Homo sapiens: one gene and its partner. The protein of the gene in region 1 purifies or fractionates together with the protein of each later gene. This does not show direct contact. Each region holds a gene or a part of one and is shown on either strand. Other genes may lie near its edges.

What was found. Proteins that work in one complex are often made in the same cells at the same time.
Region 2: the proteins of TRIM64 (region 1) and RRBP1 purify together in Homo sapiens (affinity purification with mass spectrometry, with the first as the bait; one large-scale study listed by BioGRID). This does not show direct contact.

What each region holds. Positions count from the first base shown.
Region 1 is NC_000011.10:89,963,664-89,969,557, reverse strand, and holds the start of TRIM64 (tripartite motif-containing protein 64), read right to left. Parts: upstream 3,522-5,894; 5' UTR 3,406-3,521; intron 1,059-3,405; 5' UTR 1,055-1,058; coding exon 647-1,054; intron 109-646; coding exon 13-108; intron 1-12.
Region 2 is NC_000020.11:17,661,577-17,666,106, forward strand, and holds part of RRBP1 (ribosome-binding protein 1), read right to left. Parts: intron 1-4,530. UniProt on the Homo sapiens protein: Acts as a ribosome receptor and mediates interaction between the ribosome and the endoplasmic reticulum membrane.

The DNA of each region.
Region 1 (5,894 bases):
TTTCATTCTTACCTTTAACGAATGAAATGTTCTAGTTTCCTGATTTAGATTGTTTCTTGTCTCTTGATTGATTTCCCATAAATAGTCCATTTCCTTTATAAGTTTCTCCTGCAAAAGAAGCAAGAAGCTTAGCAATAATGAAGACAGTATAGTAGATTTCATACCCTTATCAATTAAAAAAAAAGGCTGTAATTGAAAGAAACATAAATTAAGTTGGAGTGAAGTGGTCAGATTTTTCCAAGTTAAACACATTTGGTTCTAATAATTTGGATGTGAAAAGTGATAGAAACATAATAGAGAGTTTTAAGGGACCCTTCAGATAATATCATCAATATTCTGAGAAACTGGCTTTCAGATAACCTGACTTTGAAAAGTGTTCTTGGTGCTGGCCACCAGCTCCACAGCTCCATTCTACACGTTTGAACAATGTTTCTAAGGAAACCTCCTTTAGCGAAGTCTCAACACAGCTATGATTAGAGTGCCAAATTAGCCAGCAACATTGAAAGGACACATTTATGTGTTATGATTGACATGGAATAATCACCACCTCCACCATCTGCATTCTCATCACCATCATTATCACAGGCCCTCATCATTCTTATTTGGGATTCTGTATAATTCAAACTGCCTTAGAGGCATCACGTACCCTGCATTCCTCAGCAGCCCATCCTATTGGGCTGTGGCTGTGAGCCATGTGCTCTGGTGACTCAGAGCAGGGCCCACAGAGCAATCTCTTGTCAGCCTCACAGAAGAGCTCCTTAGTCTCCTCATGGAGCACACAGATATTGTCTGAGCTGTTGATGTTCTGAGGTCTGGTCTGTCTGGCTAGGGAAGACAGCTTTTTGAGTACCACATTGGTGTTGAAGTTGGGCTTCTCTGAGATTTTTCTGCACGAAGGGCAGCGCATTGGTGCTCTGCCTTCTTCTGAGCAGAGGCAGAGGCAGGGCCTGCAAAAGCTGTGCCCACAGTCAATGGTGACCGGATCTATGAAGTAGTTCACGCAAATGCAGCAAATGAGCTCATTCTGGAAGACTTGCAGGTCGTCTGAATCCATGTTTCTGGAAATTAAAAAAAAAAAAAAGTGAGAATTTCTTTCTCTTATTTTTATTTACCCCGATGAAAAGGAAAGAAAGGCCGGTGGACAATTTTCCTTGTCTACTTGAGCTCTGTCCAGCATGTCTAATAAGTTAGCTCCAGCACAAACTGAGACATAGTAAATTCATACATGCTGGATTTATAAAGTTTTCCCTCAATAGCCATCGAAGATTCGGTCAAGGACTCCCTGAGAACCAAGATCCTAAGATGTTCAAGTCTCTTATTAGTAAATGGTGTGAATTTGTATGTAACCTAAACCTATCCTCCTGAATACTTTATGTCTAGATTACTTTGAATGCCTAATACAATGTAAATGCTGTATAAATACTTGTAATGCCATACTGTTTAGGAACAGCAAGAAGATTAAAAATATGTACATGTTTGGCAGGGCGCGGTACTCATGCCTGTAATCCCAGCACTTCGGGAGGCCGAGGCGGGCAGGTCACGAGGTCAGGAGATCGAGACCATCCTGGCTAACACCGTGAAACCCCGTTTCTACTAAAAATACAAAAAATTAGCAGGGCGTGGTGGCACGTGCCTGTAGTCCCAGCTATTCGGGAGGCTGAGGCAGGAGAATCGCTTGAACCCAGGAGGCGGAGGTTGCAGTGAGCCGAGATCGCACCACTGCACTCCAGCATGGGTAATGGAGTGAGACTCTGTCTCAAGAAAAAAAAAAAAGTACATATTCAGTACAGCTGCTTTTTTCACCCTGTAAATATTTTTTATCTGAGATTAGTTGAATCCACGGGTATGAAACTTATGAATATGAACAACGAACAACTGTGATGCAAATGAGAAAATGAGACAACAGTCCTCATGGCATTTTTGTTAAACAAGCCGTGCTCTCAGTCATTCCCAGTTACCTAGACAAGCTTAAAGCCTGGGTGGAGGGTAAAAGCTGGGATGATTTCTGAGTCACTTATGTAAGCTAATTAACGAAGAAGCACATTCTGAATGTCATCCTGTTTCTGTCATTCTATCTCTCTCAATAATTCCATGATGATAATATATGAAAGACACTTAGTATCTATGGTATTATTCTATACTCCCTGCCTCCAAACTCACCTATGAAGTTTGCTCAGACAATTATAAATAAAGTAGCTTTTATCTAAGATTGAGTAATCACAGTGGACTGTCAACTCCTAAAATTATCAACCATTAAATTTGTCCTTTTAACTTTAATATCAAAACTCTTCCTTTCAATACATTAAATGTAAATAATATCTATTATTTTTAATTAGGAAAGTTTTTTCCCATTGTCAATTCTGATGATTAGAGAGAACACTTTCACATTCTGAAATAGCCAATATTTCAACTATAATTAACAAGAATTAATCAACAACTAATTATCTTCTAAAATAACAAAAAAAAAGTGAAGATATGTATTAGGTTTTCCACTCTACACTAGAAAATCCAGAAATGCAGTTAATGGAAGCATGGCCGCCAATTCACCTTTCGCTTAGTGACTTGGAAGTTGCAGCTTCTTGGGAGCCCTTGCCAGTTGGTTAGATCTATTGATCTATTTTCTTTCTTTCTTTTTCTTTCTTTTTTTTTTTTTTTTTTTGTTGCTGTTGTTGAGATGCAGTCTCACTCTGTTACGCAGGCTGGAGTGCAGTGGCACGATCTCGGCTTACTGCAAGCTCCACCTCCCAGGTTCAAACAATTCTCCTGCCGCAGCCTCCTGAGTAGCTGGTATTACAGGTGCCCACCACCACGCCAGGATGATTTTTTTGGATTTTCAGTAGGGACTAGGTTTCACCATGTTGGCCAGGCTGGTGTCTAACTCTAGACCTCAAGCGATCTGCCTGCCTTGGCCTCTCAAAGTGCTAGGCTGCAAACATGAGCCATCATGCCCAGCCGATTAAATCTATTTTCAACAGCTTTCAAATCTAGTCTGCAAATTGCAAATTTTGAAGAGACAGCAAATAAGACCTTTGCAACAAGAATTTTCAAAGTAATTCAACATTTTTAACGTTCGCTTTGGCTTACGTTATAACCACTACTACATGCCCACATTCTGGTGAACATTTTAGGTATTTTATGGGTTCTATCATTGCATGAAACTATGGAAATATATCTTTTCACACTTAAGAAAAATCTAACAATACAGAAAACAGTCACATAGTCAAATAGCAAGGGAACACAAACCATATCTTACAAATTGAAGATACTTTATATTGATTTTCTGTAAAATCACTAAGACAGTCATTTGTTTGCTTAGAAAAGACCCAAGCATGCTGCCAGGTAAATTTAAAGCATGTTTAAGAGTAAAAGTGAGCATGATGGTTTTGCTGCACACTGTATACTCACAAGGCTACTATGAATGGTCTCAGTCTAGAAACTCTGTAGATATCCAGATTAGAAGTCACTCCTGGCTCTTCAAAGCCCAGCAGCCACAAATCCAGTGGGTCCTCACTGAAGGAGAGAGAAATCTCTGGACAAGCATCCTTTTAAAGTGTATGGGCCCACGAAAGACCACACCCACTTCCTGAGGTTGATTAGATTGCGTAGAAAGGGGTAAATTGGCTGATTAGGTTTATAAAGTATTGAAAACCAGACTTGAGGGCTCAAAGCTCAACAGACAAGTTTGGAATGAGATGCAAGAAAGTTGACTTAACACTGTTTATTCAAAGAAATATTTTAAGTGTAACAATTATTTCACTACATATTATCACATGCTTTTTTTTTTTTTTTTTTTTTTTTTTGAGACGGTATCTCGCTCTGTCGCCAAGGCTGGAGTGCAATGGCTCGGTCTCAGCTCACTGCAACCTCTGCCTCTGGAGTTCAAGCGATTCTCCTGCCTCAGCCTCCCAAGTAGCTGGGATTACAGTCGCCCGCCACTACCCCCAACTAATTTTTGTATTTTTAGTAGAGACGGGGTTTCACCATGTTGCTCAGGCTGGTCTCAAACTCCTGATGTCAGGTAATCTGCCCACCTCGGCCTCCCAAAGTGCTGGGATTACAAGCGTGAGCCACTGCACCGGGCCACATGCTAACTTTAAAATTTTGTTTCTCACTCTGTTTTAAAATTATAATTGCTTAAGTGCCTAGCCGTTATTTGTCTGAATATGTTCAAAGATAAAACATTAACTGGGATTACCAACATATCTGTGCTGTGTCACTCTCTTGTTTAAAAAAGTATAACAAGGAACTCAATTGTGTTTCACAAAATTGTATATATAATGGTTGATATAATTAGCTGTATCGGCCTGTTTAACTTATTTTTACTATTTTATGACTATTTCCTAATGATGGATTTATATGAAAATAAAATCTGTTTTTTATTTATCCACCCTTTTCAATAATTTTAAAACTGAAACTTTACATATATATGTACATAACTATCTATAACAATGTTACGTATTCATATTTTTAAAATTATATAATAATTATTTACACAATAATAATAATTATTGTTACTTTTTTTTTGACATGCAGTCTCCCTCTGTCACCCAGGCTGGAGTGCAATGGCACGATCTCGGCTCACTGCAACCTCTGCCTCCCAGGTTCAAGTGATTCTCCTGCCTCAGCCTCCCGAGTAGCTGGGATTACAGGTGTCTGCCACCGTGACCGGCTGATTTTGGTATTTTTAGTAGAGATAATGTTTCACCAAGTTGGCCAGGCTGGTCTCGAACTCCTGACCTCAGGTGATCCGCCCATCTTGGCCTCCCGAAGTGCTGGGATTACAGGCATGAGCCATGGCACCTGGCTGCTATTTATACAATAATTATGTGCATAATTATCTTTAATGGTGCCTGAAAGTTATTTTTAACATGGTTGCCATACTAACCGATTTTGTTGTCGTTTACCATGATTTAATAAATCACCAATGTTTATACATAGTTGTATTCATAAATTATCTAATGTTTGGGGAGTTAGGTCATTTCTGTAAACTTAAAATTAACAAACCTTGCTAGAAGTTGAAAAAGTAAAAATCTATATAAAGTCACCATTTGCAGATTAATAGACATTTAAAAAATTATAAAATTCATAAAAGCCAGCATATCCTAGAAAAAGATGAAGTGGCTGTCTTTTTAATCAGTCCATGGCATTGCAAATTAGTATGTTTTCTGAAGTGTCATTTGATCAGCATTATGCTTCAAAAAATATATCCAATAAAGATAAGAAAAGGTAATCATAGATATATATATATATGCAGACTTTTCCACAAACGTTATTCTTTGAAAACAGATTCAAACACTTCTTAAAATGTTGCATATTATCTACTAAGTGTAGAGAAGAAAGACTTTCTGGTATTCTCACTTCTCAGTAAAAATTCAATTCTACATTTTGTAGACTGCCCCGTATTAGACAGAAACAAACAATAAGCAACTTATGAGATGCATATAAAAGAATAAAAAATAGTTGCAAATTTTAGTGCTGGAAGCTGAAAAAGTTATTATCTATTTTACTACAACTGTGTTATCATGCAGGATAGGTAAGAGAGAAAAAGTAGTATTTCCTTACCTAACTAAAAAATACTCTGTCATTCAAGTGAAAATATCAGACATTTATTGATTACCAATTCTATGCTAAAAACTGTTCTAAGTGCTTCACATGTTCTAGCTTACTTAATTGTTACAGCAACCCCATAAGATAAATAATATTTTATACTCATTTAAAGATTAAGAAACGTAAGAACAGGAAGCTTTAATAATTTGCCCATAGGCATACTCTAATTAAGTAGGAGAACTAGGGTTTGAAACCAGGCAGTCTGTCTCTGAAAACTGTCTTCCTTTCAGTGACGTTAAATATGTTGCCAAAGTATGTTCCTAAGCCACCAAATTACATACAATATT
Region 2 (4,530 bases), on another chromosome or scaffold:
ACTCCAGGAGGTGTATTTATTTGGATACATTCAAGCCAGTCCCGAGTCTCTCTAAAGAAGATCGATGGAATGAGCAAAGAGAACACAAGGGTAAGAAGGGGTGGTTAAGGGGAGGTAAAAGGAGGTGGAAGAGGAGAGGAGGGGAAGTGGACAGGCCTCCCCCAGCATTGCCCTGCAAAACCTCTAGATGCTGTGGGAGACTGGGTCCAGGCTGCTTAGTGGCTCAGATACTGAGATTCTTCTCCTAAGACATTGAGATCCCCACTCCTCTTGAGTGGTTATAGAGGAAGGAAACAGAGTAGGAATCAAATCCAAATTTTGACATGAGGGCATTTTAAAGAAGGGACTGAGAAGGGAGACTGTTTTCAATGTCTTGGCATTGTGTTCTAAGAAAAATCACTCTCGGCCGGGCGCGGTGGCTCACGCCTGTAATCCCAGCACTTTGGGAGGCCAAGGCAGGCAGATCACGAGGTCAGGAGATCGAGACCATCCTGGCTAACACGGTGAAACCCTGACTCTACTAAAAATACAAAAAACTTAGCCAGGCGTGGCGGCGGGTGCCTGTAGTCCAGGCTACTCGGGAGGCTGAGGCAGGAGAATGGGATGAACCTGGGAGGTGGAGCTTGCAGTGAGCCAAGATCGCGCCACTGCACTCTAGCCTGGGCGACAGAGCGAGACTCCGTCTCAAAAAAAAAATTTTCAAAAAAAAAAAAATCACTCTCATCACAGAAGGAACACATTACTTTGACCTTTCTAAGACCTTCACAAGAAGAGGGTTTAAAACACTCATGACGAAGAAACTTCCTAGCATATGCTCTCCCTGGGGACAACTCTATCAGCTGCTGTGGCAACACACTTCTCCCACACTGTCACTCGGCGTTGAGCGAGACTGAGTCACACTTTTCATTCCAGTCTTAACCTCTACAAAGTCTTAGGGGAGCTCATGGAGGCCTTTGAATCCTGGGTAAGGCAGCATTTATATTTCCAAATGGGTTCTGACCTCTGGCCGTGGGCAGTGACAGTGTGATCCACAGCCAGGGCACTCTCACGTTTGATCATCGAGGGAGGATACCAGGAACTGGCCTTCCGAGAACACACTCTCAAGCTGGGTGTTAAAAAGGAAATCGCACCCTGCTCAGCCATGGATGGATTCAGTGGGTAGGAGGATGGGGACAAGAAGGTCTGGAACATGGTACAGTCAACCCTCACTTTTTGGCAGGTACCCACCAACCAAAACTCCTCTGGGTACTTACAAGATTTCTCAGAACTCTGCCAAAATGGACACCACATTATAATCACTACATTCAAAAATCCTAAGGCCAGGCATGGTGGTACAAGCCTGTGATCTTAGCACCTTGGGAAGCTGAGGAGGGAGGATCGCTTGAGCTCTGGAGTTCAAGGCCAACCCAGGCAACATAGTGAGACCCCATCTCTATTTAAAAAAAAATAAAAAATCCTCTAAAACACTCCCCTTCTCTAGAGAAACGAACATTAGGGGCCTGGGTCACCCTCACTGAGGCTCCATAAACCCCGAATCGTTTCCCAACAACCATGTGCTCGAGGGGTGGTCTTTACCGAGTCGCGATTGGCACTGGTTGCAGACCGTGACACAGTGAACAGCCACGCACAAAGCGGGGCCTGTTCACAGCCGAGGACTGTGGGGCTCTGTGCAGCCTTGTGGTTTCCAACTTCTAAACTCCAGCAGAAAAGCCAAGGCTGGAAAATGAACTTTTAATCTTACTCAACATAGGCAAACACAGAATACAAAAACATATTCTCTGTTGGGACCCAGAATCGAGAAAAACAAACTCGGGAGAATATTTTTCCTTTGCAACGCACACAAATATATGTTTTATAGCAGCACAAATGTGTCTTCCCAACTTTTGCAGAAAAAGAAATTACATCCCCACCACTAATTCCCAAGTTAGAATTTTTTAAAAGAAATCTTTCACAAGAAAATGAAAAGCCCTAGTCTTAAGTAGTAATACACTGAAACATTTAAGGCTAAGGCAATACCACCACGGACAGCAAAGAAATCGAAATGAAAAACAACCTTTCTGCTGCTTTGCAGAGTCAGCTTCAGTGAGGCGTAAACATCATGCTGGGAGATCCCTGATTCACAGAAATGATGAAGCCAGGGATGCCTCTCAAATTCGGTTCTCACAATCAGCATTCCGGGAGATTTGCTCCTGAAATCCACACCATGATAAGAGGCCCCCAACAGAAACCTCTTCTAGGGCTTCCTCCACTGCACCAGAGTTAGGGCAGATGTGTGCCCACCCATACCTTGTAGGGTCTGACCACAGGGATCTATATTCTGTCAATTCCAGAAACTTCTGTCAAATACGTACTTTTACTCCCTGCAGTGGTCCTCCCTTATCCTCTGGGAAACTTCCCAACACCCCCAGTGGGTCTGAAACTGCAGTAATACTGAATCCTATATACACTATTTTTTTCCTATACCTACATACCTATGATGAAATTTAATTTAGAAATTAGCCACAGTACGAGATTAACAATAATAAAATAGAACAATTATAACCATATGCTAGCATCACCACTCTTGCACTTTGGGGCCATGATTAAGTAAAGTAAGGGTGACTCAAACACACGCACTGTGATACCAGACAGTGGATCTGAAAGCTGAGAGGGCCACCAAGTGACGCACAGGCAGGTAACACAGACGGCGTGAATCCACTGCACACGGGATCGTTCACATCCCAGGCAAGACGCTACTCAGAATGGCATGCAACTTAAAACTCAGGAAGAGTTTCTTTCTGAAATTTTCCATTTAATATTGTCAGACCACAGCTTTCTGCTGGTAACTGAAACCACAAAGAGTGAAACCATAGATAAAGGGGGACTACGATATTGCTAACATACTCAGACTGTAAGACAAAAAGATGAAGGCCCCAAGAGGGAAGGATGTAGGAGGCTGCGCAGAGGCTGGACAGACTGAACTCACTGGCCCACCTCTAAGATCTTGAGAGAATGGCTCTTCTTCTGTTCTTAAGATTCGGGGAACAAAAGTAAGAGGAAGCCCCAAACTCTTTAGACACAGAAGATATCTGCTAATTCACATGGCCCGGCCAAGCCAGTTGGGTCCAATTTGGCAGCTGGGATTTTGGTAGGTTTTGTGAAAAGACCCTCAACAGCTCCCAGGACTCTGTCTCATTACTAAGCAGCAGCTCCACGGGGGACCGTGTGTGGAAGCTTGGAGAAGCTGTGGGGTAGGGGTGGACAAAGAAAACCAACCCCCAGATCCATTTCCTGGGCATAAGGTGACCTGCTAGGAAGGTACAGAACTAAAACAGAATGACAATAAAACAGAGACCCTAGCAGACATGGCTACATCAGAATCAACAGCTCCTAATTTTTAAAATATTATGAAATGACTCATACAAAAGACTAAAAAGAAAAATATGAACATCCATTAGCCTACCACCCAGGTTTACCAAACCCTAACATTTTGCCATATGCACTTTAGATATTTATTTATATATATATGTATGTGCCTGTGTATACATATATATGTGGGGGGGGGACACACACACATGTGTATATGTATATATATGTCATCTCCCTTCTAGAGGGGGACAACACCCTGAATGGGCCACTTACCACTTCCACCTGCTTTTGCTTCTATTACATGTATCTATCTCTACCAACAAAATACAGCCGTTACTTTGTGTGTTGGTAATTGCTGTGTAAGTGACATTGTTCTGGGTGCTATTTGGTAACATTTTTTGACTAAACTTTGTGAGAATATTCATATAGATACACATAGCTTTGGTTTATTCTTTTTGTTTTTTTGAGACAAAGTCTCTCTCTGTTGCCCAGGCTGGAGCTCAGTGGCATGATCCTGGCTCACTGCAACCTCTGCCTCTCAGGTTCAAGCCATTCTTGTGCCTCAGGCTCCCGAGTAGCTGGGATTACAGGCGTGTGTCACCACGCCCAGCTAATTTTTGTAGTTTTTAGTAGAGACGGGGTTTCACCATATTGGCCAGGCTGGGGTTTATTTATTTTCACTCCTATATTACATAGTTGAACCACAAATTATTAGCCATACTCCTATGCTTTTAGGTTTTAAAAATTTATGCTGTCACACAAAATTGTAGTGTGACATGTCTACCATATGAGTGAAAAATCTCCTTTATACCCCTGAAGCCAGCCACCCAGGGTCGCTTCCTGGAGATAACCATTGTGACAGAAGTCATTTTACTGTTTATAAGTTATTTTCTTCAAAAGACTTTGGTAATGCATTTCAAAGTCAGGTTTTCAATTACCAGGAATTTACTTTGGTATGTGACAGGAAACAGTGATAAAACTTTCCCCATCAGTTTAATTACCCAGCACCATTTCCTGACTGGTCTTTTCCTTCCCCCACAGACTCAGATGGCCATTTCTGTGCCATTCAGTGGATCTGTTTCTAGATTCTACACTTTGTTCCACTGTTATATTTATGCCCTGCATCAATGCCACATTTTCAGCTTAAGCATCCCCTACAAAATTTCTACTGGAATTTGCATT